7 linked regions of the Homo sapiens genome follow. The protein of the gene in region 3 purifies or fractionates together with the protein of the main gene of each other region. This does not show direct contact. Each region holds a gene or a part of one and is shown on either strand. Other genes may lie near its edges. The genes, in order: PSAT1, HSD17B4, ABCC6, PHGDH, MYDGF, ALDH1A1 and GFPT1.

Region 1 (4,642 bases), on a different chromosome or scaffold from region 3:
TTACACTACTTTTATCTTTGTGTATGTGAGGATTCCCTTAATAAAAAATAAAGAGAAAAAGAAAAGCTTTAAAAATGAACACAAAATAAGTGCAAAAGCAACCAGCCAGAGAAGGTCTACAGATAGGAGGCACCTTTTTTTTTAAGATGCTTGCTAAGGAGGGCATCATTAAAACACAGCTATAACCTAAACTGGATTGCAACTTGTCTCAAAAAACAGTATTTTAACAATAAAGAATTAGACAAGGCCGGGCGTGGTGGCTCACGCCTGTAATCCCAGCACTTTGGGAGGCCAAGGCGGGCAGATCATGAGGTCAAGAGATTGAGACCATCTTGGCCAACATGGTGAAACCCCGTCTCTACTAAAAATACAAAAATTAGCTGGGCTTGGTGGTGGGTGCCTGTAATCCCAGTTACTCAGGAGGCGGAGGCAGAAGAATCGCTGGAACCCGGGAGGCGGAGGTTTCAGTGAGCCGAGACCAAGCGACTGCACTCCAGCCTCGTGACAGAGCTTGACTTCTCTCAAAAAAAAAAAAAAAAAAGAATTAGATTAAAAAAAAGACTGCCTTGACGACTGGGTCTAAGAATGTGTTATTGTTTTCTGAAATGTTGGATGCTTGTTAGCACCAGCTGATCAAATAAAATAGAGTGAATCTTTTCTTTTAGTAAAGAGAAACATTCATCTGTGAATAATCTTTGAACTTGCTCCTGAGACTGTATCTTTCTTATAGACAGCATTCATTGAAAATAGTTCTATAAAAGTTTATAACCAAAATAATTACAAACAGTTTTAAAGACTCCTACTGAAAAATCACACCTCCCTAATCCAGTAGGTTTTTTTTTTTCCAGTTGAAGAATGCATTGCTTTTGTGGATCATAACCAATTTTTTTTTTTTTTTTTTTTTTTTTTTTGTTAAGAGACAGGGTCTTGCTCTATCACCCAGCCTGGAATGCAGTGGGACAATCACAGTTCACTACAGCCTCAAACTCCTGGGCTCAAGAGATCCTCCCACCTTAGCCTCCTGAGTTGCTTGGATTACAGGCGTGCGCCACCACACCCAGCTCACGACTAATTTTTTTAATGAAACAGAACAGACTAGAGCAGGATAGAATACAAAATAGTGTATGTCACAGGTAATTAGGCTACACATCATTTCATAAGGCATTTATTTTTGTTACAATTGAATGTGTATACTTTGTCATTTTGTAAACATGTTTTTCACTGTAGGTTACAGTCAAAAGAAGTTTGAAAGCTTCTCTAATATTTACAATTCAACTAAATCAAGGAAATACATAAAAAGCAACATCTGCCTGCCCCCTCACCCTCCTGCCCCCCAGGTTACATGCAGTCCAAGGGCAAAAATCCTCCCAGAAAAATTAATAACAAATAATTGTATTACTGATGACAATTGCCATTACAATTATAGTAATAAATTAATAACGAAATACATAGGGAACAAACGTTGGGAACACTCCAAAACATGGGGGGTGCAGGAGGAGGCTACAGGAAACATCTCCACAGCTGGAGCAGGGAATCTCGCCTAAAATGAACTGTAACCACTGAGAAAAAATAAGCCCTGTCCTCTCAGCTACTGTGAGCGCTGCCCCTAGAAAAGTAAGAAGTCCTTTCCCCTTTAAAATTGGATTCTCTGTTCTTACCACAACACAGAGGAGGCTCTGTCCCAGGGAGATTTCTACTCTGCTCAACAATTGATAATTGTAAAATACTTGGCTATGCCTCATGCTGCTCCAACATATTATCAGCTCTATCCTGGTTAGAAAAATAAAAATCTAACGGCGGCGGCAGCCGCCTGACAATGGGCTCAAGGCACATCGGAGACTTTGCCTTCTTCACTGCGGGTGGGGCTGGGGACGGTGGGTTTGGCGGGGGAGGGGAGGAGCCGGGCTGGGGCCTGGGAAGGCAGAGAGTGAGTTCCACCAGCAAGATCTGATTGTGGCCCGGGAGAGAATTCAATCACTCGGTTTACTCCAGAACGAAATGAACAGGGAATTGGGTTAAGCAGCCCAAAGTCTACCAGAGTTAGAATACTCGAACGCCTTTAGGGGACAAGCAGGTTAAAAAAAGGAGGGGGGTGGGGAGAAAGGCTTTAGGAAAGGGTAGGTTCTATGGGGGACAAGGAGGGGAAAGCTGGACTGAAGGTTTTCAAATTTACATTTCTGAAAAGCAGTGTTCCTAAGTGCTGGCTAAAGCAAACACTGGTGTAAGGCGTAGGGGGGCACGCACACGCGGACCTTTAAGTTTGCAATCCCTTTCAGCTAACGTGATCCACTGCATATGCAAAACCTGTCATCGGTTCATTCCCGTTCATCACTCATTCACACTATGTCCATTCATGCATCCGCTCCACACTGCCCGGGCTCGCCGCACAGCTGCGCGAGGCGAAGGCAGAGATCAGAGCTTTTTCTTTTTCGCCCCGCCCCAGCCCCCGGACCGGCCCAGGAGATGGCACAGCCCGGGCGTCTGCAGGTGCGTGGCACCGGCGGGACAGCAGGCCCCGGCCAGCTGAGTCGTGCACTGCCTCGCACCAGCAGTCAGGGCCAGGGGCAGCTGCACGGGCACGCCTCGCCGAGCTTCCTCACCAACTGCATTCTTCCCGAAGCCCGCTTGCCGGAGCTGCTGATCCCGCTGTGCACGCTGATGCAAAGCGCCTAGGGGACTCAAGGCAGGGAGCGGGAATCCGACTGCCACACGCAGGGATGCAAACCCACCCGCGTGCGTGCTCCCGCCTGAACCTCACTCCCGGCGCCCGCTCGCGGGGACTTACTGAGTGCGGCAGCTTGGCGGGACCAGGCCCAAAGTTGACCACCTGCCTGGGGGCGTCCATGGTGCGGCGGCCAGGGCGGTGAGTCAGCCAAGGAGGACCGAACGCGTGAACGGCTGGCGTTCCTGGCCGCTGCGGTGAGAGTCTGCAGCCGGCCCCGAACCCCCGCCTTGTTCCTGCGCCGAGTCGGCGCCCCATTGGCCCGTGCTGTCGCAGGCCCTGCGCTAATTGGTTCGCGCGAAGGAGCTCACATCCCCATTGGTCGCGCTTCTGAGCCGAGTCGAAGCAGTTGCTCCTCCTCGCGTTTACTGTTTCAACCCCCATTTTTGATCAATGCAAGGAGCGCGCGAGATTGCGCCAGCCAGCCGAGCCGGCTCGGCTGCGCGCCCGCCCGAGGATTGTGGGCGGCGGGAAGAGGCTGCCCCTGCCAACCTGCCTTCGCCCCTTGAGCCCGCAATCTGGCCGGTTCCAGTCCTCCAACCCCAGAGGACCTCAGCTCCTCTCTCTTGGCTGAAAGGGCAGTTGCCGAGCAGATTTGTAGCCCCCATCCACCCACCTCTCCACCACCAGCCCCCAGTTTGGGCTGTGATGTATTTGTTCCAGAACCACCAGTCACTAATCTACCAAACTTTTCTAAGCACCCCCCACGGGCGTCAGATACCCCAGTGGAGAGAGAGGACCCCCCCAAGGTTGGAAGCGCAGGATGAAGAAGGGCCGGGGGTGGGTGGATACGGTTCTTTGTATTTGCACGTGGGTCCTGAGTTCCTGCAGGATTAAAGAACGGAGGTGGCCAAGGACGCAGGGAGGAGCGATAGCCTGGGAAGCGTGGATGCCCGCCAGGCAAGTCCTTTAAAGTCGCTGATTCTCCATTTCCTCCTTTGGGAAACGAGTGAGCTGGAAACCTGCGACAGCTCTCAGGTTGCGCCCGCGCTGACAAGCTGTGAGTTTAGAAACGTGAGGAGATATTAACAAGAACGCGATACCCATAGGGCGCTGCAGCCCAAACCAGAAGAAGGTGGCCCCTAGCCAGGCCAGGCGCAGGGCCAGAGCTGCTCAAACTTTTCCACAGAAGTGTCCTTCTCAAAAGAACTCCAGTGGAGACCCGCATGGGGTTCTGAAACAGAATACCCTCCCCCTACCCTGCAAGAAAGAAGTTCCTTTGAAGTCTGGAATTTCATCATTTTTAAACTGTGAATTTTGCATTCTCTACCATAATTTAACCTAGTTTCTTTTAATGTAAAAATATTTTCCCTGTCTGAGTAAAATTGATGCGCCAGGAATATATACAGTCCAACTGCCCCGTTTAGAGAAGGCTTGTAACTGGACAGGACTTTGGCTTTTGTTTGCTTTTCCTAATGAGAATGTGGGCGGTATGGGGCTGAGAGCAGAGGCACTGCTCTGGATCTGGGAATTGGAGGACAAAGTTTCCAGAAAAAGGCAAAATGAACAAGGCCCCTGCGTTCCTCAGCAACTTCATTAAGAAAACCGCGACATTCAAGACAGAATAAATCTCAGCCCAGAAACTCAGGCATGCAAGAAGCATCACATATCCATTATTTTACGTAAATAACTCAGTTATTATATATTAGTAGCTGCCCCTAGCAGCTTATCTACTGGAGACTAAGGGAGTCAGCCTTCATCCTTCCTGGAGTTAGTTCCTAACACCAGGGCTATACACAGTCCCATGTAGTGGGTTGGGAGAAGGGACAGCACATCCATTTGGTCCTCTGTTCCCAAAAGATATGGCTGAGTTGTTTCCACTGCCCAAGCTGATGTGGCTGCTTGGGTTGATGAGCAACCTACTACTTCTGTATCCCACTAGGGGCACAGGAATTTGGGGTGGGGTGGCGGTGGCTATTG
Region 2 (3,780 bases), on a different chromosome or scaffold from region 3:
TGCTTCCTTTGCTTCTCCTGGCAGGTGCTGCTCATAAAAGCACCTCCCAAATCAACTTCCTGCACATGAATCTCCATCTGAAAGTCAGCTTCCTGGGAAACTCAGCCCATACTAGCCACCCACACATATTCTCCTCAGCTGTGTTACCTGATTGAAATTTACTCCATCTCTGAGCTTAGCATACCACCTGCTGCTGGTCACCTCTGCAGCCAACTCATCCAAAGAGCATCTCCCAGTGCACTTCATCAGAGCTAAATGCTGAGGAAAACAGTGATGTGGCAGTACTTGCTAGTGACTATCTTTCTGTTTTGAGACTGCTGATTCTTCAAGAAAGCTACACTTGGTAGATTTATAAACATTATATGTAGTAAAGAATTTCCAGCAAAGGGGAGGGGAGAAGAAAGAAAACTATTTGGGAGCACAAAGACTTTTCTCTTGCTTTAAAAGAGAATACTATCAGAACAAAGTATGAAAAATGAGTGCATACATGGAAATTCACATAAAAACTGGGGTATCAATAAATAAAAAAACAGAAAATCACAAAAAAACAAAGGTATCAAAGGCCTTTATTGATTTAATTTTCCTTTCAACTTATCAATGCTATCACAAATTCTAAGGAAACAGGACTTGGGCAAAATTTTTTATTATGAAGATACAGATCTAAGAACAGAAGGATAATTATGTGCTAGCTTATATATAGTTCCTTGTAAAAATAATGATACATGAAAAATTAGTAGAAAATGAAAATCTGCAGTTATCTGATATCTGAAAATGTTAAGCAATTTCCCCTGCATCTTAGTTCTAATCACTTTTGCAGAATAATCAAGCATATTTGGGTGAAGAGAGTATTTAATGATTCCATTTTTATTAATAGTGTAGTGTGCCCTTCAGAGCTTGGCGTAGTCTTTAAGAATCATCTGAAGTTTCTGGCTCAGCATGATGTTCCCTCTGGCCTTCAGCCTGCCACTAAAGAATGCCTGCAAGGAGAGGAGGGAAAAAGAGTGCCAACTGTTACCATGTTATAGTTTATTTCTTTTTTTTTTTTTTAAGATTATTCAGACTGAATACAATTGAGCTAATAATTCTGGACAACAAAGGCAACCTTTATTTAGCAATGACAATTTAATAACTACAGATAGCACATTTTTTTAGACATCTAAAAAAAAGAAAAATCATTCCTGTGTATTTTAGAAAACTATACAATAATTTATCTGAACTCATGGATCTGGGAGTTCTGTTTCAACCTACGTTTCTGGCTTTACTTTATGTTCTTACAATTTGAGACCATATTAATAAAAGGCTACACTGTATTCCTAATAAAAATATTCAATTCAGAACTTCTAAAAGCAGATTTAAAATATTTACTACAGTTTCATGAACTAGAAAGCCACGAAATGACAAATTAGAGAATATAACACAATGTTGAATAGATCACAGCTGTAGCATCAGAATGCCTGAGTTAAAATCCAGGCTGTGCCCCTTAATAGCAAGGTGAGCTTGAGAAAATGCTTAGATACGTGGCCTCTGTGAGTTTCAATCTCCTCATCTATAAAAGGCATAACAACAGTCCCTAAATAACACAACTCTGTTGTGCGTGTTAAATAAAGTAATGTGTAGAGTGCTTAGCTTAGTAGTTTGACATGTGATAAGAGAGTATTAATTCATCATTACCAAGCAAAAGCTGGTGTGTTAAAAACGAAGGGTTCCTGTAGCAGTTTTGTATCTAACCTGATACAGAAACTGGTGCAAGTTCCTTAAGTTCTCCTTCAGTGTAAATTCCCTATCAGTAAAATAAAAATAATCAATCATAGTTTTTATAGCTTACATAAAATATGAAGTGAAAAAGCCTCTAGATTTCTAGCTAAATGGAAAAAATAGTGATACCTACATACACTGAGCATTACAAAGCAGCTCCACAAATATAATCTCATTTAAGAATTACAGCTGTCAATTTGAAGTGGGCACATCAGCAGTTCTTACCCCAGTTGACAGATGAGAAACTGAATTTCAGAGAGCTTATTAAATAACCTGCTCAAGTCTACAGAGCCAGCAAGAAGTAGGGCCAGGGCTTAAACTCAGGTGTTCTTTGCTCAGCAATGCTTGTTAACAATACTTGTTAACGAGCAGCACTTAGTCTCAGAAGCAAACCCTCGTGAACTGGAGAAAAGGCAACAACTTTTTATTCCAGAAATAGTCAGAGAGAGCTCATTCAGTCACAATCAAATGCATTCAAACAGGAGACCAGAATTTCAAAACTAAGATTTCTTTCACTATGCAGTTACAAAAAACAAACAAACAAAACGATGGTCTGCAACTCATGCAGGGAAGGAGTCAGTACTTAGGCCAGCCTGCTATGTACTAAACTCTGAAAGAGATTTACAACCTAAAACAAGAACACCTAATTACTAGAAGTAAAAATATCAATTTTGGACATTTTTGAGCAGAAGAATTTTGTACATAAATCTTTCCTCCTATCTATTTTCTTATTTCTTAAAGCCCTTAACCATACGTCCATATTGCCAGTTTCCAAACTCTGCACTGCCATGCACCGGACATCACAGCAAACTCTCTCAGGGACACTTTCCCAATACTGTTAATTTGGGAGGGAAATACAGTCATACTGGTTGAACACAAAAAACTAATTGTTTTGAACTACTTCATAAATGAAACTGTTAGGTATATGGTTTGGCCTAGGAGTGCCATGCAAAAAGTAGTAAGACTATAAACTGCCATAAAGGAAGAAGGTCTGGAAGCACTGTGCTTTCCAGAAAGGCTATACCAACTACTGATTGATTGACACAGGGTCTTGCTCTGTCACCCAGGCTACAGCTGCATGATCACACTCACTGCAGCCTAAGCCTCCTGGGCTCAAGTGATCCTCCCAACTCAGCCTCTCAAGTAGCTGGGACTACAGGTGTGTGCCACCACACCAGGCTAATTTTTTTTTTTTTTTTTTTTTGGTAGAGACAGGGTCTCACTGTCTCACCCAGGCTCAAACTCCTGGACTCAAGCAATCCTCCTGCCTTGGCCTCCCAAAGTGCTGGAACTACAGGCACGAGACATTGTCCCTGGCCTATACCAATTTTATATTCCCTCCAGTTGTGTGTAAATTATCTTATCCCAACCTTAAAAATACTATTTTCTTACACTTTGAAAATATGAGGCAAAAATAACATGCTTTAATTTGTATTTTTGGATACTGGGAAAAATTTTTTTCTTTTGTATGTTAGTCATTTCTATTTATTTCATTAATTATTGTTCCATACCTTTTGTCCACTTCTTCTTTTTTATTATTATTATTATACTTTAAGTTCTAGGGTACATGTGCACAATGCGCAGGTTTGTTACATATGTATACATGTGCCATGTTGGTGTGCTGCACCCGTTAACTCGTCATTTAGCATTAGGTATATCTCCTAATGCTATCCCTCCCCCCCTCCCCCAACCCCATGACAGGTCCCCGTGTGTGATGTTCCCCACCCTCTGTCCAGGTGTTCTCATTGTTCAATTCCCACATGTGAGAACATGCGGTGTTTGGTTTTTTGTCCTTGCAATAGTTTGCTGAGAATGATGGTTTCCAGCTTCATCCATGTCCCTACAAAGGACATGAACTCATCCATTTCTATGGCTGCATAGTATTCTATGGTGTGTATGTGCCACATTTTCTTAATGCAGTCTATCATTGATGGACTTTTGTCCACTTTTTCTATTGAGGTTGTAGTGCTTTCCAGAATTTTTAGAATGATACTCTGTATCATCATTTTATTTTTTTCCCTCGAT
Region 3 (3,944 bases):
AATGTCAAGTGTGGACTGGGCACAGTGGCTCATGCCTGTAATCCCAGCACTTCAGGAGGCTGAGAGAGGAGGATTGCTTGAGCCCAGGAGTTCGAGACTAGTCTGGGCAACATAGCAAGACCCTATCTCTGTGGACAACAGTATTAGCCAGGTATGGTGGCATGCACCTGTAGTCCTAGTTACTTGGGAGGCTGAGGTGGGAAGAACGCTTGAGCCAGGGAGGCGAAGGTTGCAGTGAGCCGATATTGCACCACTGCACTCCATCCTGGGCTTCGTCTCAACAACAAAAAGCTGTGTGGAAAGATACACATAAAATTTACTATCTCAACCTTTTTTTTTTTTTTTCTTTTTCTTTGGAGACAGGGTCTGGCTCTGTCATTCAGGCTAGAGTGCAGTGGTGAGGTCAAGGCTCGCTGCAACCTCCACCTCCCAGGCTCAAGCATTCCTCCCACCTCAGCCTCCCGAGTAGCTGGGGTTACAGGTGTGAGCCACCAGGGCCAGGTAATCTTTTTATTTTTTGTAGAGACAGGGTTTCACCATGTTGCCCAGGCTACAGTCGAACTTGCGTAGGCCTCCCAAAGTGCTGGGATTACAGGTGTGAGCAGCCACGCCGGGCCCATCTCACCCATTTTTCAGTGTATAGTTTCTGTAGTGTTAGGTACATTCACACTGTTACACAACAGAACTACAACTCTGTACCCATGAAACCCTAACTCTCCTTGTCCCCTCCCCCAGCGCCCAGCCACCAGCATTCTCCTGTCTCTCTGAGTGTGACTACTCTAGACACTGCATAGACGCAGAATCATAGGATCTGTCCTTTTGTGACTGGCTTATTTCACACAGCATGATGTCTTCAAGGGTCATCCACATCGTAGCATGTGTCAGATTCTCTACCTTTTTAAGGCCGAATAATTTTCCACTACATGGATAGACCACATTTTGCTTATCCGTTTATCTGCCAGTAGATACCCAGGCTGTTTCCACCTCTTGGCCGTTTTGAATAATGCCACTATGAACATAGGTGTATAGGTATATGCCTTTAGAAAAACCAAAGTGGCTGGGCGCGGTGGCTCATGCCTGTAATCCTAGCACTATGGGAGGCCGAGGCGGGTGGATCACCTGAGGTCAGGAGTTCAAGACCAGCCTGACCAATATGGTGAAGCCCCGTCTCTACTAAAAATACAAAAATTAGCTGGGTGTGGCGGCAGGCGCCTGTAATCCCAGTTACGTGGGAGGCTAAGACACTGAGACAGGAGAATCGCTTGAACCCGGGAGGCAGAGGTTTCAGTGAGCCAAGATTGTGCCACTGCACTCCAGCCTGGGTGACAGAGTAAGACTCCGTCTCAAAAAAAACAAAAAAAAACCTAAGGTGTTCTGGATTTATAAACCCCTCTGACCCTGAGGGTGTCCGAAGGGCTTGTGGTAGGCAATAATTTCCAGCACTAGAGAGGCAGCGTTGCTTGGTGGGTAAGAGTATACACAGGTGACAGACTGCCTGGGCTCAAATCCAGGCCCCCCACCCCACACCCCCACCCCCGCCCCGCCCTGCCACTTACTAGCTGTAGGATCTTAGGCAACTTATCTTGTGTGCCTCAGTTTCCTCATCTGTAAGGTGGGAATAATAGCACCTACCTACCTTGCAAGGATTGAATTATATGCACAAAGTTGTTGAAACAGTGGCAGGCATAGAGCAAAGAGTAAATACTCATTTTAGTCCTGAGTCACACTCCTGATAACATCATTTCACAGAGTTGGAATTGGAGGCCTGGGGCTTGCCTGACGTCACACAGCTTAAAAGTAGTGAGGTTGGGACAAGACCCAGGCACTCTAACGCCTGCATGACCATAGTAGGTTCTGATCATGTAAAAGGATGCTGTTTCATGGAAGGGCTTACTGTGCAAGACAGCCATGCTGGGGCCCCAGGGGTCAGTTCCCACCTGGGTCAGGGGCTCACTGGGCTCACAACCTGGAATCTCAACTCCTCCACCCTCCACGAAGGGTGCTACTCCATGCCAAGGGCTTATTCTGTGACAAGCCTACACACTTTTTTTTTTTTTTTTTTTTTTTGAGACAGAGTCTTGCTCTGTCGCCCAGGCTGGAGTGCAGTGGCGCGATCTTGGCTCACTTGCAAGCTCTGCCTCCCGGGTTCACACCATTCTTCTGCCTCAGCCTCCTGAGTACCTGGGACTACAAGCGCCCGCCACCACGCCCGGCTAATTTTTTGTATTTTTAGTACATACAGGGTTTCACCGTGTTAGCCAGGATGGTCTCGATCTCCTGATCTCGTGATCCGCCCACCTCAGCCTCCCAAAGTGCTGGGATTACAGGTGTGAGCCGCCGTGCCCCGCCACCCACACACTTTTATGTGCCATGTCGTCACGATTCAGCGAGGACGGATCCATTAGGAGCACAGACTCTGGGGTCAGAGGACTTGGGTTCAAATTATGGACCCACCACTAGCCTTGAGACCTTGGTCAAGCCACTGAGCTTCTCTGTATCTGTGTCCTCTTCTCTCAAAAGAAGAGAACAATAATATCTACCTTGGTGGACATTATGAGGATTGAGTGAATATATACAAGCACTTAGAATGTGTTTGGCACAAGGTGGAAACTAGAAATAGAACTGGACATAGCCATAAACAGGCCAGGCACGGTGGATCACGCCTGGAATCCCACCCAGGTGTTGTACACATCTGTATTTAAGGCCCACGTGACACCAGCCTTGAATGTCTTAGGAAGACTGTAGATTTGATTCTTGAAGCAGCAGTCAGTCATTGTAGGTTTGTTTGCAACGGCATGACTGAAGTGAAAGCTGTGCTTTCGCTGTTGGGGGAAATATAAATTAGTACAGTCACTATGGAAAATAGTATGATGATTTCTCAAAAAACAAACTAGAAATAGAACTACCGGGGCGCAGTGGCTCACGCCTGTAATCCCAGCACTTTGGGAGGCTGAGGTAGGTGGATCACCTGAGAGTTTCAAACAAGTCGGACCAACATGGTGAAACCCCATCTCTACTTTAAAAATACAAAAGCCAGGCATGGTGGCGCATGACTGTAATTCCAGCTACTTGGGAGGCTGAGGCAGGAAAACTGCTTGAACCGGGAGGCAGAAGTTGCAGCGAGCTGAGATTGTGCCATTGCACGCCAGCCTGGGTGGCAGAGCAAGACTCCGTCTCAAAAAAAAAAAGAAAAACGAAGAAGAAAAAAAGAGCCATAAACAGAAAAAAGAAAATAGCCATTTCACAGGTGGGGAAACTGAGGCACAAAGGGTTTGAATGACCTGCCTACAGTCAGCCTGCTCAAAGATGGCAGGAACAGGCTTCCTATCAGTTCTGCAGACCACAGACCCCAGACCCCATGTGTGGGGATGCCTGAACACAGGCACCTCACTCCTGCACTGCTTCAGGGACCTGTTTCTGGGCACACCCACACATCACCATGTGCCGACAAACGCACGTCCCAGCTAATTGTCCCAATCGTTCCCAGCGTGGGCCAGAAACAGCTCCTGTGTCTGGCACGTGCCCTTCTCCGGAAGACCCAGATCCTCATCCTGGACGAGGCTACTGCTGCCGTGGACCCTGGCACGGAGCTGCAGATGCAGGCCATGCTCGGGAGCTGGTTTGCACAGTGCACTGTGCTGCTCATTGCCCACCGCCTGCGCTCCGTGATGGACTGTGCCCGGTAAGGCTCCCGCCCCGGCCTGACCTCACAGCAGCCCTGCAGTGGTGGGGGAAGGAGGCGGAGGCAGTCCTGGGCCACTGGGCTTCGGGTTAGAGCTGGAGGGGTCCTGAATGGGGCCAGAGCGGGAGGAATGCCCGGGAACACATGCCAAGTGGGAAAGCTGCCCAAGGACATGCGCCCAGCACACGCTTCCAACCCAGCTGTGAGGGCCAGGGAGCCGCATGGAAAGCAGGACTTCTATGGAGAAAACCTCAGCGCAGAC
Region 4 (4,425 bases), on a different chromosome or scaffold from region 3:
GGTATATTTAAGATGTGAGTTCCAAACAAGATGCTTTATTATTTTAAGCCAACGTTTTCCAAACTTTTTTGACTGAGGTTCATTGTAAGAAACACATCTTTGTTGGTGGAGGGGTGGGACAGGGTCTAGCTCTGTTGCCCAGGCTGGATTGCAGTGGCGAGATCATGGCTTACTGCAGCCTCAAACTCCTAGGCTCAAGCGATCCTCCCACTAGAGCACCAGGTTGGGAAGAGTGACAGCAACCAGGGCCTCAGCCCTCCACCCCATCCCCCAGTAGCTGAGACTACAGGCTTGTGCAAGATGCTTAGCTAATGTTCGTATTTTTTGTAGAGACAGGGTTTTGCCATGTTGCCCAGTCTGGTCTCAACCTCCTCAGTTCAAATGATCTGCCTCCTTTGGCCCCTCCCAAAGTGTTGGGATTACAGGCGTGAGCCACCGCGCCCGGCCAAGAAACACATTTTTAAGTTGTAATTTCATACTCACATGCCACACACATACAACTACACAACATAAATGAAACAAAATTCATGAAACAATACTTACAACCTTACTATCTATCTGCATTGCTGTCTGATATTTCCTACTTTGTTTTTTAAAATGCTCGTCATGACCCCTTAAACTGAACTATGACTTGCTCCAAGTCTGAAAAGCACCACTGAAAGGGCAGGGAGGAATGATTGTACTTCCTGACCAGGGGGTGAGTGAGAGGAGACCGCCTGCCCAGAATACAAGGCAGTGGGAACCAAGGCCAGGCCCGGTTCTAGCAACGCTGCCGAAGCTTCCTTCAGCATTAAAGAGACTTCAGTGGGGGAGGGCAGGAGACACTATGCCAGACACCTCTTCATGCAGAATAAAAAGGCATAGTGTAGAAATGAGGACCCTTCAGTGGGCTGACCAAGGAGATTAATTGGCATTCTGAACCAAATGTGTTGCAAAGACAGACAAGAAAGCTGAGCCCTCCCAAACAGTCCAAAAATGCCCAGCAGTCAAGTTAGCCAACAAACACTCCTCCTCTCCTGCCAAGAGTTTTCAGCGCCTTTAAAATGTTCTCCAAGTTTCAGCACCAGACTCCCAGCATCCACCCAGCTGATTCCTGACTTCATGGAACAACCCCTCATTATGGATGAGGCCTCCCATTCCTCTCAATTCTGCCCTCATCCCTCCCTATCCCCACCCCCTCACTGGGGTATCAGGTTTCTAATTTCCTTTAGAGAGGTGAAAGCACTTGATTGCCACCCTCTTCCCAACCTGGTGCTCTGGTGGAGGTGAGAGTCAGAGGCTGTTCTGCAGGACACCCCACTGCCTTTCCTGGTTGTTCCCCAGAGCCACTGATACAATTTCACACAAGAAAGGAGGTGACAGATGTGAGGAGCCTGCCACCCGTCCAATCCTACTCAAGTCCTAAGCCCTTGCCCACCAATTCTGTGCATGATGATTGGACCTTTCTCTGGCTTTTCCAGAAGGGGAACACGCAAAGGTTAGGGAGCTGGATGGTCTAATTCGGGGCTATGCTCTTGTGTCATCTGCTCAACTGTCTCCTGCGTATTAGCCATGCTCCCTAACCAGCTTACAAACTTCTTGAAGGCAGGGACCAAATTCTTCTGAGTACAGGGCAGAGCTGGATACTTGGATATAGTGTCATGCCATGGTGACAAGATCCACGCCAGCAGATACAAAGGCAGACAAAGTGAGCGAGGCAGTTTCCAGGACCACGTGGTTGTGGCACAACTAAAGCAACAACAGCAGCCTCTGCGGTCTAAGGGGTCCTCGGAGGAGGAGACGGCTGAAGGTGGTGGACAGGGCTGAGGCGGGCAGAAGGCGGTTGTGCGATTTGGAGGGTGGGGGAGAATATACTGGATCAGGTGAGGTAGAGACTGGGCAGCTGGGTCGACTACAGAGGTCGAAAGTGCAGGCACTGGAGTGAAGAGTTCACAAAATAAATATTCCGGACAAGGCCACCAGGCCCAGCAGGCCTTTTCAAACACGGTGGATAAAGATTTGAAGTAGATTAATTATATATCACAACAAAAGGAGATAAAAATTTGCTAAGACTATAAATCATCTGGGAGCGTTTGGGATCGGATTCTAGTCGAGTCTGGTCACTCCCAACCAGCGATAAACCAAAGGTGGGGAGGAGGCTAAATCTGGACCCCAGCGCTCCCCGCCCGCCTCCCTTTCCTCCGAAGGCTCCCAGGAGGCAGAGGGGCGGCGAAAGCACGGAGCAGTCTTGCATCAGACGAGGGGCGGGTACGTGTTTGCTGCCTTACGAGGGCTGCCTTCCCCTCCAGCTGCCCCAGCAGCCACCAGACTGGTTGGGTCTCCGCCAGCTTCCCCCCGCCCCCCGACCCCCCCAACCCCGCCACCGCCAAGGCAGGCTAGAATCGGCGGGGCGGCCCAGAACTTGGTTGGGAAGAATCGCCAGTCCCTGGGTTCCCCGCAAAGAAGCCACTTTGGGGCCCCTCTCCCGATCGCCCCGCGCGGAGGCGGTTGGGGGTTGGGGGAGAGGCGGCGCGAGGCTGCCAGAACAATTGCGCGCTAAGGCGCTGGGGCGCCGCGCTGGCATCCCGCGCTGGCATCCGCGAGCAGCCTGCAGGACCAGTTGGAGCAGCCCGCACTTTGCAATGCTAGCGGAGGCATGCCAACGTGAAAGACGCGGTTGCAAACTAAAAGAAAAGTTTGCATCTCGCCGCCGTTTGTTCTTCCCTCTTTCTGCCTCCTCCCGCCCCCGTTCTTCTCTACCCCCCAATCTCAGGAGGCCCCGGAACTAATTGATACGGGGTGCATGCGAGGGGGGCGCGCTGGCCTGGGCGCAGCCAGCCTTTTTCCATGGAGGTTGCCCTAGAGACCTCAATTTTCTCTCTCTCGCCTTACCTGCAGCTCCGCTATCAGCTCCTCTTTGCTAAGGTTCTGCTTTTCCACCACCTGCAGCCCTCCATCTTGCAAGATCTTCCGGCAGCAAGGGTCCAGGCTGTCACTGATGAGCACTTTCCGCAGATTTGCAAAAGCCATTGCTGGAGTTGGCCTCGGAATCGGCCGCTGTGAGTAGAAGTACCTAAGCCAAGAAGCTGCGGTTCGGCCTGGCGCGCTAGAGTAACTGGGCAGTATTCTCCAGCTCCCGCTCCCCAGTCATCTCCTCCTCCTCCTCCTCTTACAGTCTCCTTTTGATTGGACGGAAATACTCAAACTCTCCGCGACTCCGCCTCCTCCTCGCGGCTCTGAGGTTGCCAAATCCCTGCCCGCTTTATTATCCTCCCGCGATGAATTTCTCCATCTCAGCCAAAGCTCTTACCTACACCTGGTGAGCATATAAAAAGCACAATTTACGCTGACTAGCTGATGCATATCTGAAATGAACGGAGAAATACACCTCATCCTGAGAGAAAAACTTCATTTTCACTTTTCCTCCTAAGGATTCATTTATTAATTCCTTACGAAATTTTTTTTGAGTGGGTAAATGTGCAAGGCACTGTGCTAGACGTTGAAGGGAATTCGACTATCAAAAAGAAAATGTCCAACAATGATAGACTGGATTAAGAAAATATGGCACATATACACCATGGAATACTATGCAGCCATAAAAAATGATGAGTTCATGTCCTTTGTAGGGACATGGATGAAATTGGAAATCATCATTCTCAGTAAACTATCGCAAGAACAAAAAACCAAACACCGCATATTCTCACTCATAGGTGGGAATTGAACAATGAGAACACATGGACACAGGAAGGGGAACATCACACTCTGGGGACTGTTGTGGGGTGGGGGGAGGGGGGGAGGGATAGCATTAGGAGATATACCTAATGCTAAATGACGAGTTAATGGGTGCAGCACACCAGCATGGCACATGTATACATATGTAACTAACCTGCGCATTGTGCACATGTACCCTAAAACTTAAAGTATAAAAAAAAAAAAGATACATCCTCTTTCCTCTGGTGGCCTAACATCCTAGAGTACCAAACACACAGACTTGGAAAGTTACGTAGTGAAAAGCAATAGGAAGCTTTCTGAGACACCAAGGAGCTGTGATTAATTTCAAATTAGTGATGCAATGAGAATTATGAGTTTATAAAAGAGCGGGGACCTGGTGCATTTAAACTAGGCATACTTTGTTAAAGTTATTTATTTCCTTTCCCTCCACTTCCTCTCTAATTATGAAAAAGAAGAAAAGGAAAACGGGATGTCAGTGTGGTTTAATTGACCAAGGAGGCACTTCTCAGCTCTTAACTCTTTTATATTTAAACCCCATAACCGACGTGCTCTCTCATGCCCCATTTTACAGAAATGTCAGAAAATTCAATTTGGGATTAAAGTCACCTAGAATCAGAAGCAGAATCAGAGATGCTCATAGTTGAATTAGAATTCAGCTTTATGGACATATCCAGTCCAACTAACCATTGTGTGTTATGTCATCCTGAGCTATTC
Region 5 (3,944 bases), on a different chromosome or scaffold from region 3:
CTCCAATCTGTGCTCTCCCCACCCACCCCATCCTCATTCTACAAAGCCTCCAATCTACCCTCCCCACCCACCCCATCCTCATTCTACACAGCCTCCAATCTGTGCCCTCTCCACCCACCCCATCCTCATTCTGCACAGGCTTCAATCTGCGCCCCACCCCCAACCCCCGACTCCATCCTGGTTGGTGCCTGGAGGGGCTCCCTGCCTCAGCCTGCCTCCTTCAGCCGGGGGGATCTGAGCTCCACATGTTCCTGCAGGGAGCCCTCTGGAATAGGACTCAGCCAGGAAAAGAAATGAGGCTGACACGGGCCTCAGCATGGATGAGCCTTGAGGACGTCACGTTCAGTGAGAGACGCCAGACACCAAAGGCCACACAGGGAAGGTTTGACCCCATTTCTATGCAATGTCCAGGACACGCCCATCCACAGAGACAGGAGGGGGATGCGTGGCTGCCATGTGCTGGGAAGGAGAATGACTCTGATGGGAACAGAGTTTATTTTCAGGGGATGAAAATGTTCTGGAAGCAGAGGTCTGGCTGCACACCTCTGAGAAAGTACTCCATGCAGCTGAATTGTGAGCTTAAAATGCTGTGCTTTATGGAATTTTATCTCAGTTTTTAAACATTGCCAAAAAGGGTCAGGCATGGTGGCACACGCCTGTAATCCCAGCTACTCAGGAGGCTGAGGGAGGAGAATCGCTTGAACCCAGGAGGCGGAGGCTGCAGTGAGCCAAGATTGCTCCACTGCACTACAGCCCGGGCAAAAGATGGAGACTCCATCTCAAAAAAAAAAAAAAAAAAATTGCCAAAAAGCCCTTTGGTGAGTTCGTCTCACCCTTAGGGGAGGGTGGAGCCCCTTGGGGCCTTCCTGGGCCCTGGTCCACGCTCCGCACCCTCTGAGCTGCTTCTCCTTTTCCTGGGACCTTGCCCCGCACAGGCTCCCCCCGTCTCCCCCAGACCTTCTCAGTCTCTGCATCAGTGCACTTCCTTGGGGAGCACTCCCACCCCAGCGACCCTGCCACCCCCCACCTGCACGTGCATGAGTCTCCCTGCTGGTCTGTCTTCCCCTCCAGGGGTGCAGCCCTCGTTCCCTGCCTTCCAAAGCAGCTCCTGAGGCCACAGGGCAGGCCAACGGCAGCCGGAAATGCCATCCCCACCCCGAGTCTCACCTCCAGATGGTGCAGGTGAAGTGCTGGTGGTCTTCGCTGGTCCCCAGACTCATCTGCCATTGCTGGGGAGAGAAGACAGCGCGGGTCAGCCCCGGACACACAGCTGCTCTCGGAGACTTCTAGGTGTGCCTCTGATTCTACAGTCAGGCCACCTCTTCTGTACCTCCCGATTCAGGGGCTGGCCACTAAATCCCCTGCCCCGCCCTCCTGGTGGCCTGGGGTTTGCTGTCATCTGTGATCAGGGAGCCTGCCTGCACCACATCCTTCCCATAAAAGTGGTGCCTCTAATGAGAACTACCCCAAAGTGGCTCCCACGGATGGGGAAATAGGAACAACGCTGTTTGTTTGTTTGTTTGTTTGTTTTTGAGATGGAGTCTCTCTCTGTGGCCTGGGCTGGCGTGCAGTGGCACGATCTCGCCTCACTGCAACCTCTACCTCCTGGGCTCAAGCGATCCTCCCACCTCAGCCTCCCAAGTAGCTGGGACCACACCCAGCTAATTTTTGTGTTTTGTAGAATCACTGTCTTGCCATATTGCCCAGGCTGGTCTCAACCTCCTGGCCTCAAGCAATCCTCCCACCTTGGCCTCCCAAAGTGCTGAGATTACAGATATAAGCCACCATGCCAGGCCTAAGAACAACTCTTAAACATATAAATAGATGTCCAGGCCGGGCGCGGTGGCTCACGCCTGTAATCCCAGCACTTTGGGAGGCCGAGGCAGGCAGATCACGAGGTCAGGAGATCAAGACCATCCTGGCTAACATGATGAAACCCCATCTCTACTAAAAATACAAAAAATTAGCCGAGCGCAGTGGTGGGCGCCTGTAGTCCCAGCTACTCGGGAGGCTAAGGCAGGAGAATGGCGTGTACCCGGGAGGCGGAGCTTGCAGTGAGCTGAGATCGCGCCACTGCACTCCAGCCTGGGCGACAGAGCGAGACTCTGTCTCAAAAAAAAAAAAAAAAAAAAAAAAAAAAAAAGATGTCCCATATCATTTATGAAAAATAAATAAACACAAGCTGAACTATCGTGAGATACCTTTTTCTCCCAGGTCAGAAGGGCAAAAGCCCTCCTGTCTGCTAACACACCATATGGGTGTGAAAACCAAGACTATTCCAGGTTGTCGGTGGAGCTGCAACAGGTACAAGCAAAATGGAAAATGCAGGCTGGGCATGGTGGCTCATGCCTGTAATCCCAGCACTTTGGGAGGCCAACGTGGGATGATCACTTGAACCCAAGAGTTCGAGACCAGCCTGGGCAACATAGCGAGACCCCATCTCTAAAATGACTGGCCTCTTGCACGATGTTACCACCGGGGAACCTGGTTAAACGGTACTTGGATCTCTCTGTAGGATTTCTTACAAGTGAATGTAAATCTACCATGATCTCAAAACATACAGTTTTACTTTTTTTTTTTTTTTTGAGATGGAGTCTCGCTCTGTCACCCAGGCTGGAGTGCAGTGGTGCGATCTCAGCTCACTGCAACCTCTGCCTCGTGGGTTCAAGCGATTCTCCTGCCTCAGCCTCCTGAGTAGCTGGGATTACAGGCGCGTGCCACCACGCCCTGCTAACTTTTGTATTTTCAGTAGAGATGGGGTTTCACCATCTTAGCAAGGCTGGTCTCAAACTCCCAACCTCAGGCGATCCACCTGCCTTGGCCTCTCAAAGTGCTGGGATTACAGGCGTGAGCCACCGCGCCCAGCCCAGTTTTACTTTTAAGAAAATGGACCCATGAATCCCACTTCTGGGTGGTTTTCCCACAGATGTAACTGCACTTGTACAATGAACCCTGGCCAAGGTTATTCACGGACTGGGTTGGAAGTAACCCTCAATCCATTAGTACGGGATTGTCAACTCCACACGTCCATGCAACTGAAGCGCTTTACATAGGATACAGAAAAATCTCTAGGAGGCCGGGCACCGGTGGCTCACACCTGTAATCCCAGCACTTTGGGAGGCCGAGGCAGGCTGATCATTTGAGGTCAGCAGTTCAAGATCAGCCTGGCCAACATGGCGAAACCCATCTCAAGGTGTTGACCGGGCTAGGCTCTTACTGGTAGCTCAAGGTCCTCTTCCAAGCTCTTGTGGTTGTGGCAGATTTCAGTTCCTCTTGGTTGCGGGACTGAAGTCTTCATTTCCTTGCTGCCAGCCAGAGGCTGTTCTCAGCTCCTAGAGGCCGCGTGTATTCCCTGCCCTGCAGTTCCCTCAAGGGCAGCAGTGGCGTATGTGTCCATGTGCTTCAAATCACCCTTTTTTTTTTTTTTTTTTTTTTTTTGAGACAGAGTCTCGCTCTGTCGCCCAGGATGGAGTGCAGTGGCGCGATCTTGGCTCGCTGCAAGCTCCGCCTCCCGGGTTCACGCCATTCTCCTGCCTCAGCCTCCCCAGTAGCTGGGACTACAGGTGCCCACCAAAACACCCGGCTAATTTTTTGTATTTTTAGTAGAGACGGGGTTTCACCGTGTTAGCCAGGATGGTCTCGATCTCCTGACCTTGTGATCCACCCGCCTCGGCCTCCCAAAGTGCTGGGATTACAGGCATGAGCCAGTGCGCCTGGCTCGCCCGGCTAATTTTTGTAGTTTTAGTAGAGACGGGGTTTCACCATGTTGGCCAGGCTGGTCTGGAGCTCCTGACTTCAGGTGATTCGCCAGCCTTGGCCTCCCAAAGTGCTGGGATTATAGGCATGAGCCACTGTGCCTGGCCCAAATCATCTTTACTGGCTCTTCTGCCACCAGCTGGAGACAACAGCCAGCAAGGAAACCGGGACCTTGGTCCCTGAACCAC
Region 6 (3,944 bases), on a different chromosome or scaffold from region 3:
ATGAGGTCTTCCTATTGTAATTTAGGATTCTTGAGTTCTTGAGCATATTTTGATTTCGGGAGACTTACCTCTTTTATTAAAGATGCCACGTGGAGAGCAGTGAGAGGAGTTTGCTCTGCTGGTTTGACAACCACTGTGTTTCCACAGCTCAGTGCAGGCCCTATCTTCCAAATGAGCATAACCAACGGGAAATTCCACTAGAAAGCAATATGTAACAATAGATTCTTTGTATTGCAAAAGGCATATTTGCTAATCCAACTTCCATATTATACACCCCCTGTAGATGTTATGTAATAATTGCGTAGTTTTGTGAAATCATCTGGCATATTATACTTCATTGCTAAAAGCAACTAGTAAATGCTAAAACGCTCTGAATAAACCAGATATGAGATATGAGAAGGAAATAGGAGAGAACCTCAAAATTTAATCAAGTACTGTTGAGTTCTTTTTCTACCAGGAAAAAAAAAATCACTGCATGGTTTGGCTTATTATGGAGCACACTGTAAGTTATCTAAAAATGTTTAAAAAGGATGATTACTCTCCTTCTCCATAAGTCATTTATTGTAATTATTTACCCAATAATATTATTTAGTAGCTTTTATTTCCAGGAAAAATACCTTGCTAAAGACAAAGATGTCCAGGGTCCAGAGGCCAAGTACTTGGGTTCAAATCTCAGCTCAATCACTGACCAGCCATGTGAACTCACACAGGTTACGTGCTCTCTGTATCTGATTTCATAATCTGTGAGTGCTGATAATAGTCCTCTCTGCCTCAGAAGGCTGTCTTGAGCATTAACCAAGAAAGAGGGCCAGGGGCTCAACACAATGACTGGTCTAGCATAGACAAGTAGTACATATCAGCTATTATCAGTGTTCATAATTATATAGTTTTTATCGATTTATTGGGACTTTTGAATTAATAAGCAATTTCACTAAAATATTGATATGAATATATTTCAATCTCATTGGAGCCAAAGATAAGTCTTGACCATTTCTTCACATAAGGACTTCGCTACCATTTTTTTGTTTGGCCTTTTAAAGCATGTCAGTTAAAATAAAATCATTTAGATAGTGTCCTGTTTGTTGGGCTTAAAAAATCTTCACAATCCTCTTAAAAAGGCTACTTTCCTCTAAGAGTAATATGGAGGATCTGAGCCTCTTATCTAAAGGTAAAATATATTCCATGCAGTGCTTCAAATGCCTCTGGTATTCTTTTTTCCATTTTGATTAAAAAATGTGTGTCATGAGTTGAACACTCTGGGAGCTACTGTTCTGCATGATGAGATGTCTCAATGAGAAAGTGCGTTGGAGAATAGTAGGCCCCACTACATTCCACCAAAATGCTATCCTGCAGATGTGCAGTGGAGAGCACCTTGCCATATACATGTAAAGCTTGGCTCTTATAAAGAGTACATAATACAACTTTTAATAAAACAACCCATAGAGTAAAGGGTTAACATTTATGGATGATGTAGTATTAAAACATTCTCAAGAGATATGCCAGAATATAGATAGGTTTTCGGACTACCTAATTCATATGCAAGAAGTTTAGTCACAGGGAGACCAAGTTCAACAAATCTTACATTTACTCCACATTTAACAAATACATAAGCATCCATCTGTTTTAGAGAAAGCTTCATCATTAGATAGAATAAGAACTCTTCTTTTTAAAATTGAGAATTATATAGGAGAAAAGCTTACAGGAATGATTTGGCCACATACACCAATAGGTTCATGTCTTGTATATGTAAAAAAATTTCCATCTGAAAAATAAAACACACACAATCATATATAAACAAATGTATTTGACATTCACAAAATGGTGGTTGGTGATGTGAGAGAAAGGTGTAGACAATAATTTTAAAAACATATATCTGGCCAGGTGTGGTGGCTCACGCCTGTAATCCCAGCACTTTGGGAGGCCGAGGCAGGCAGATCACGAGGTCAAGAGATCGAGACCATCTATATCTCCAACTATTCCCAAAATGGTAAGTGAAGCCCTAAAATAGTAATTCGAAATGATAGGAACCATAAAATTGAGTTAGGTGAAATCAAAGAGGCAAAATTGGCAAAAATCTGAAAGATAATTAATTCCACCTTTCATCTTCTAGGAGGCCTGATTTGAAAATTATCTTTATTCTCTAAGTGTTATAAAAAAGGGACGAGAAAGGAAGTAGGAGGTCTCTGGCGAAGAGAAGAACCACATTCCAATTTGTTTCTGGTAGCTCAAAGTTCTACCAATAAGAGAATTCTTTTTAAAAGTTATAATATAATTTTTAGAAATAGTAAAATTAAAAACAGTAGAATTAAAAAGAAAATCTCCCTATGAGTAATAAGCCTTTCCTACTGACTTGTTCTAAAATGTATTTTATTTGCCTACCAAACAATAATAGCAAATTCTCTAAATACATGAAGAAAATGACAGGAGTATAAGACATTTATTTTCAATCTAAATTTGACCAATTTATGTGCCCCGAAGTTTAATGTGGTCATCCAGAGAGATACATTATGCTTTACATTCAATTCTGTTCTAGTTCCCACAGAAGCTTCCTGGTTTCAGCAAGGACTCTCTTCATCAAGATCTATTTGTGTTTTAAGTGACTTCTCCCATTTTGTCCCGGAGTAAAGTAGGACAGTTCTAAAGTAGCCACATTTCTTAGTACCACCGAGGTCTTACTCTCCTCTCAACTTTCTGCTATCACTTCTGACCTCCTGCATGCTCCAATTGGATTGGAAGTGCACATCAGGGCCAGTCCTGGAGGGTATTGTATTCCTAAAGTTCATAGGTTTGCCTGAATTAAATTCCACCCATACTGTTTCCTAAATGTGTGTGTTTTCATGTTTCACATGAAATATCTTTAGTATTTCTACTCCATTATGTGCATACCCCACTAAAATAACACATACGTACAGATTCACACACACAAACCCTTAACTTAGGCTGCAAACACAGTCCCATCTTGCTTTGAAGATATTTGAAACGAGTCCGTGTGAACTGGCTTGTTTGATTAGTCTGGTCTAACTACACTGAGTTTGACCAGGCACAGATGACCATAACTGACTTATACTGGAACATGTAAAGAGGCTTAAATAATTACATTACAGAAAGGATATAAATGTCAGTATTGGAATAAAACCCAAATAAATAATTTCAGAGGTCAGCTTTAAAAAGTTTGGGACCTTAGAGAGGCAATTGCCTCAGATCAGTAATTACTGCCAAAGGAATGTTCTTACTTTGACATTTTCTAAAATATCTATAATGTTATCTTCATGATTATGCTGAAACAACTTTAAAAGACCTTTTATGAATTTTAATAGAACTTCTAAGTTGAAAACTGTGTTGTCTCAAAGTCAAGAGGAAAATAATTTTGCCTTATTTGGTTGACATCTTTAAAAGGGAGAGTTTGAAATTATTCAGCTCTATAGTAAACTCCTCGCTCCTATCCTCACCATTAGTGGTTTCTCAAAGATACTTACCAATTGGTATTGTACGGCCCTGGATCTTGTCAGCCCAACCTGCACAGTAGCGCAATGTTTTGATGCAGCCTGCTAAATCATTCAGATATGCATTGGAATAGAGTTTTCCACCATTCATTGACTCCATTGTCTGAAAAACATGTCAAACACCAAATCTAAAATTCCATAAGTTTTAGATTAAAAATATGTAGTAAATATTTTCAGCAATCATGTGCTAGGGAATTTTTGAAATAGAAGAAATCTTGTCATCTTGTCTAACCTCCACTTTTTAAGAGTTAAAATGACTTCCTTTAGGTCAAATAGCAAGATCTGGGCACAAAGGGTAGTGAGATTCTGATTTCTAAACCCCAGTGCTCTTTCTATCTCATTTTGATGTTCTCCTGCTAACCAGCTTTCTAGGAATCGGTCACAATTTGATATACACATAACATCTGAGAATGAAACCTAGTCTTCTAAGTCCTATCAGAA
Region 7 (3,944 bases), on a different chromosome or scaffold from region 3:
CTCACAGTCAACCTATGTCATCATCTTTCTTGAGAAAAAAAAGCATGTACTTCCTGCTCACAATCTTCAAATATTCCATCTCTCTCTCTTCTGACCATTCACATCAGACTACAATTTTTCATCATACTGCCAAGTCAAACCCTCTGGGTCCACTGTGCTCTGACTCCTAGTCTCTGAGCATCTCTACACTGAACTATGACAGCCAAGGAGAACTCATCTATCCTATCCATTTCGGTCCACTTTCGGATGGGCCCTCCGAACTGCTGACCAATCCTATTAATTCATCACTTGCTTAACTTTCAAACTTCTCCCAGATATTATTTTAGAGTCTAAGCTACATACTACTCTCAAATCCTCATTTTCTCTTCCCAGCTTCTTTTTCATTTTTGGTAGATTCTTACTTTATAGAATTAAAGTCTTTTTTTTTTTTAGACAGAGTCTCGTTCTGTCACCCAGGCTGGAGGGCAGTGGCGCTATCTCAGCTCACTGCAACCTCCACCTCCTGAGTTCAAGCGATTCTCCCGCCTCAGCCTCTTGAGCAGCAGCTGGGATTACAGGCGTGTGTTACCACGCCTGGCTAATTTTTGTATTTTTAGCAGTGACAGGGTTTCACCACGCTGGCCAGGCTGGTCTCGAACTCCTGACCTCAGGTGATCTGCCCGCCTCGGCCTCCCAAAGTGCTGGGATTATAGGCGTGAGCCACTGCGCCTGGCCAGAATTAAAGTCTTCATTTTCTTTTTTTGTTTTTAAAATATAGAGACAAGGTCTCAATATGCTGTCCGGGCTGGTATCAAACTCCAAGCCTCAAGTGATCCTCCCACCTCAGCCTCCCAAAATGCTGAGTTCACAAGCATGAGTCACTGCCCCTCACCCATCTTCTTTTCAACAGTTTAACAATATATAAATACTTCTCATCCTTCCTTGTAATCTCAAGAGAGACATATTACACATACTACTCTCTGAAGCTAGCCTCTCCCCTACTTGTAACTTTTTTTTTTTTTTTTAACAGTCCTGCTCTGTCACCCAGTACCCAGGCTGGAGTGCAGCAGCACAATCATAGCTCACTGCAGCCTCAAACTCCTGGACTCAATCCTCCCACCTCAGTCTTCTAAGTAGACTGGACTACAGGTATGCACCACCATGCCTGGCTAATTTTTTTTTTTTTAATAGAGATGGGATCTCACTATGTTGCCCGGGCTGATCTTGAACTCCTAGCGTCAAGCAATCCTCCTGCCTCAGCTTCCTGAGTGGCTGGGATTACAGGTGTAAGCCAAAACACTGGCTACTTATAACTCTTTTTTTTTTTTTTAATTGAGACAGAGTGTCACTCAGTCACCCAGGCTGGGGTACAGTGGCGTGTTCTCAGCTCACTGCAACCTTCACCTCCCAGGTCCAAGCACTTCTCCTCCCTTAGCCTCCCAAGTAGCTGGGATTACAGGTGCGTACCACAACAGCTGGCTAATTTTTGTATTTTTAGTAGAGATGGGGCTTCGCTATGTTGGCCAGGCTGGTCTCAAACTCCTGACCTCAAGTGATTCGCCCACCTCAGCCTCCCAAAATGCTGGTATTACCAGAGGGAACCCCACACTGGGCCTTACTCCTAACTCTTGATGAGTGTTTCTCCAACTTTGTAAATACAGAACTCTTTTGTTAACATCAAAATATTCTGAGGCTCCTTCACAACAATGGGTTAAATTTTTATTATTCAATGATCTAGAACAATCTTTATTCAACTTACAGACAAAGTTATAAGCATATGAATAAGCAATGAACACCCTGTAACAACTTCAGGGCTTGTAGGTCAGGAACCACAGCTCTAGAATTCAACTTCTCAACACTCCCAGGGGACCTCAATCCCAAAATCCTCTTCTTTTTCATATTACTTGCAGCCCTCCTCCTAAACACAAACTGAGACCCTTCTGCCTTGACATATGCAATTTCTCTAATAATTTCTTCATAACCATATCCAATTAACTTCTCTGCAGTATTACATATGAATGACCTTTTTCTACTTTTATAGACTCTGTTCAAGGCAATATACTACTTTGGAACTCTTCTGCCTTTAACCACTGTTCCTTGGTCTGTTTTCCTGGCACTTCTATTTCCTCCTTCATCTGGTAGTAGTTCTCAAACTATTTCCGCCTCCATTCACTGACGGTTAACATATGCCATTAATGATTACCTCTCACAGTATACTAATACTCTACAAGTTGAGTAAAAGTCCTGCCCCATCACCCAGAACATTCCTGAACCTAACACAGAAACCCAAACCCCAGAGCTCTCCAGTCTCTAAATTTCTACTCATTCTACTTGTGGTCTATGACATGGCAATGAACAAGGACTGTGTATTTTCACCTGAAGCTGTTGCATGTGCATTCATTTTCTTTCCTCTGATCAGGCAGCAATTTCTTGAAGGCAACTCTCTTATTTTAGTCATCTCTGCAAAGGGCAGAGTGCCAAGTATAAAGCCATCATTTCAAATACCTGCAAGTATCTTCTAACACTTTCTAGGCACCTGAAATATACGGTCAAAAAATTCTCAAACCACAGAAACAGAACACTATTTCACCGGATGCTAAAAAGGAATGAAGTAAAGAAAGGTTTCATAATTAAAGGTTTAAGAACTACCTGGTTAAAGTTAGGTATATATTTAGAACTTTCTGGAACCTTTAATCTTGCTAATTGTGAATCTCCAAGAGCAGAATTTCCCAAACTTGTGTTACAAAACCCTTTCCCGCCTTCTACTGCTCATTACCAGAACCTATTAACCTCCATTTCCAGGGGACAATTGAAGAAATGCTTATTAAGCAATTATTTTCTCTCACAACTTCTTCATATCCAGTATATGTAAGGATATGTTAATAGTACTGGTTTTATGACCAATCCTAGCAGCCAATCTCAGCATCCCTCAATTATCTCCAAAGCCATTAGACAGTATAATTACAAAAAACTTTTGAAAAATTCATTTTAGGATACTTTAAAATTGCAAGTTCCTTTACTGCTTTTAAAAAGGATCTCATTTGCAAACATTCCATTTATTTATTTATTTATTTACTTATTTATTTATTTATTTTGAGACAGTCTCTCACTCTTGTCGCCCAGGCTGGAGTAGAATGGCACTATCTCAGCTCACTGCAACCTCCACCTCCTGGGTTCAAGAGATTCTCCTGCCTCGGGCTTCCGAGTAACTAGGATTACAGGCATGCGCCACTACGCCCGGCTAATTTTTTTGGATTTTTAGTAGAGACAGGGTTTCACCATGTTGGTCAGGCTGGTCTCAAACTCCTGACCTCAGGTGATCCACCCACCTCAGCCTCCCAAAGTGCTGGGATTGCAGGCGTGAGCCACCGCGCCCATCCCCAAAATTCCATTTTATATACACCGTCGAATCAGAAGGGTATAACTTCACATTTATAAAAACAATAGCAAAATCTGTTAAAAGCTAGGGATAGCTTAAGTGACTTGACACTCAGCAAAACCAAAAATAATGCAAATAAAAAGGACAAAGTATATTCCAAACTACCAAGAAAAAGGAAGATAAAATAAATTTGGAAAATAGACACACTATTCTTCTCTGGGAGATTCTCAATGCTTATTATTAATACATTAAAGATTCCAAGAAATCCTCCAATCAAAAAACAAAACAAAACATTACCACGCGATTTAATATGTTGCTTCCCAAATTTACTGGACCAGAGGATCTTTTTTCCTAACACTTATTAACATCCCAATACAAGCTGGTAAACATATCAATTTTATCAGTATATCTGATTGAAAAAAAGCACATCAGAATCTTCAATCCTCATTCTTCTGCTTCAACAATGCACAACGTTGAAATAAAATAATCTTTTAGGCAAATTTAACTAGGGCCGGGTAAGGTGGCTCACTCCTGTAATCCCAGCACTTTGGGAGGCTGTGGTAGGTGGATTACCTGAGGTCAGCAG

What was found.
Region 1: the proteins of ABCC6 (region 3) and PSAT1 purify together in Homo sapiens (affinity purification with mass spectrometry, with the first as the bait; one large-scale study listed by BioGRID). This does not show direct contact.
Region 2: the proteins of ABCC6 (region 3) and HSD17B4 purify together in Homo sapiens (affinity purification with mass spectrometry, with the first as the bait; one large-scale study listed by BioGRID). This does not show direct contact.
Region 4: the proteins of ABCC6 (region 3) and PHGDH purify together in Homo sapiens (affinity purification with mass spectrometry, with the first as the bait; one large-scale study listed by BioGRID). This does not show direct contact.
Region 5: the proteins of ABCC6 (region 3) and MYDGF purify together in Homo sapiens (affinity purification with mass spectrometry, with the first as the bait; one large-scale study listed by BioGRID). This does not show direct contact.
Region 6: the proteins of ABCC6 (region 3) and ALDH1A1 purify together in Homo sapiens (affinity purification with mass spectrometry, with the first as the bait; one large-scale study listed by BioGRID). This does not show direct contact.
Region 7: the proteins of ABCC6 (region 3) and GFPT1 purify together in Homo sapiens (affinity purification with mass spectrometry, with the first as the bait; one large-scale study listed by BioGRID). This does not show direct contact.

The regions. Positions count from the first base shown.
Region 1 is NC_000009.12:78,295,414-78,300,055, reverse strand, and holds the start of PSAT1 (phosphoserine aminotransferase), read right to left. Parts: upstream 2,932-4,642; 5' UTR 2,846-2,931; coding exon 2,786-2,845; intron 1-2,785. UniProt on the Homo sapiens protein: Involved in L-serine biosynthesis via the phosphorylated pathway, a three-step pathway converting the glycolytic intermediate 3-phospho-D-glycerate into L-serine.
Region 2 is NC_000005.10:119,539,102-119,542,881, reverse strand, and holds the end of HSD17B4 (peroxisomal multifunctional enzyme type 2), read right to left. Parts: intron 978-3,780; coding exon 888-977; 3' UTR 550-887; downstream 1-549. UniProt on the Homo sapiens protein: Bifunctional enzyme acting on the peroxisomal fatty acid beta-oxidation pathway.
Region 3 is NC_000016.10:16,150,316-16,154,259, reverse strand, and holds part of ABCC6 (ATP-binding cassette sub-family C member 6), read left to right. Parts: intron 1-3,487; coding exon 3,488-3,682; intron 3,683-3,944.
Region 4 is NC_000001.11:119,710,607-119,715,031, reverse strand, and holds the start of PHGDH (D-3-phosphoglycerate dehydrogenase), read right to left. Parts: upstream 3,099-4,425; 5' UTR 3,010-3,098; coding exon 2,872-3,009; intron 2,302-2,871; exon of another isoform or gene 2,234-2,301; coding exon of another isoform or gene 2,174-2,233; intron 2,121-2,173; exon of another isoform or gene 1,572-2,120; intron 1-1,571. UniProt on the Homo sapiens protein: Catalyzes the reversible oxidation of 3-phospho-D-glycerate to 3-phosphonooxypyruvate, the first step of the phosphorylated L-serine biosynthesis pathway.
Region 5 is NC_000019.10:4,663,709-4,667,652, forward strand, and holds part of MYDGF (myeloid-derived growth factor precursor), read right to left. Parts: intron 1,230-3,944; coding exon 1,168-1,229; intron 1-1,167. UniProt on the Homo sapiens protein: Bone marrow-derived monocyte and paracrine-acting protein that promotes cardiac myocyte survival and adaptive angiogenesis for cardiac protection and/or repair after myocardial infarction (MI).
Region 6 is NC_000009.12:72,925,416-72,929,359, forward strand, and holds part of ALDH1A1 (aldehyde dehydrogenase 1A1), read right to left. Parts: intron 3,607-3,944; coding exon 3,477-3,606; intron 1,763-3,476; coding exon 1,701-1,762; intron 198-1,700; coding exon 69-197; intron 1-68. UniProt on the Homo sapiens protein: Cytosolic dehydrogenase that catalyzes the irreversible oxidation of a wide range of aldehydes to their corresponding carboxylic acid.
Region 7 is NC_000002.12:69,380,569-69,384,512, forward strand, and holds part of GFPT1 (glutamine--fructose-6-phosphate aminotransferase [isomerizing] 1), read right to left. Parts: intron 2,516-3,944; exon of another isoform or gene 2,438-2,515; coding exon of another isoform or gene 2,356-2,437; intron 1-2,355.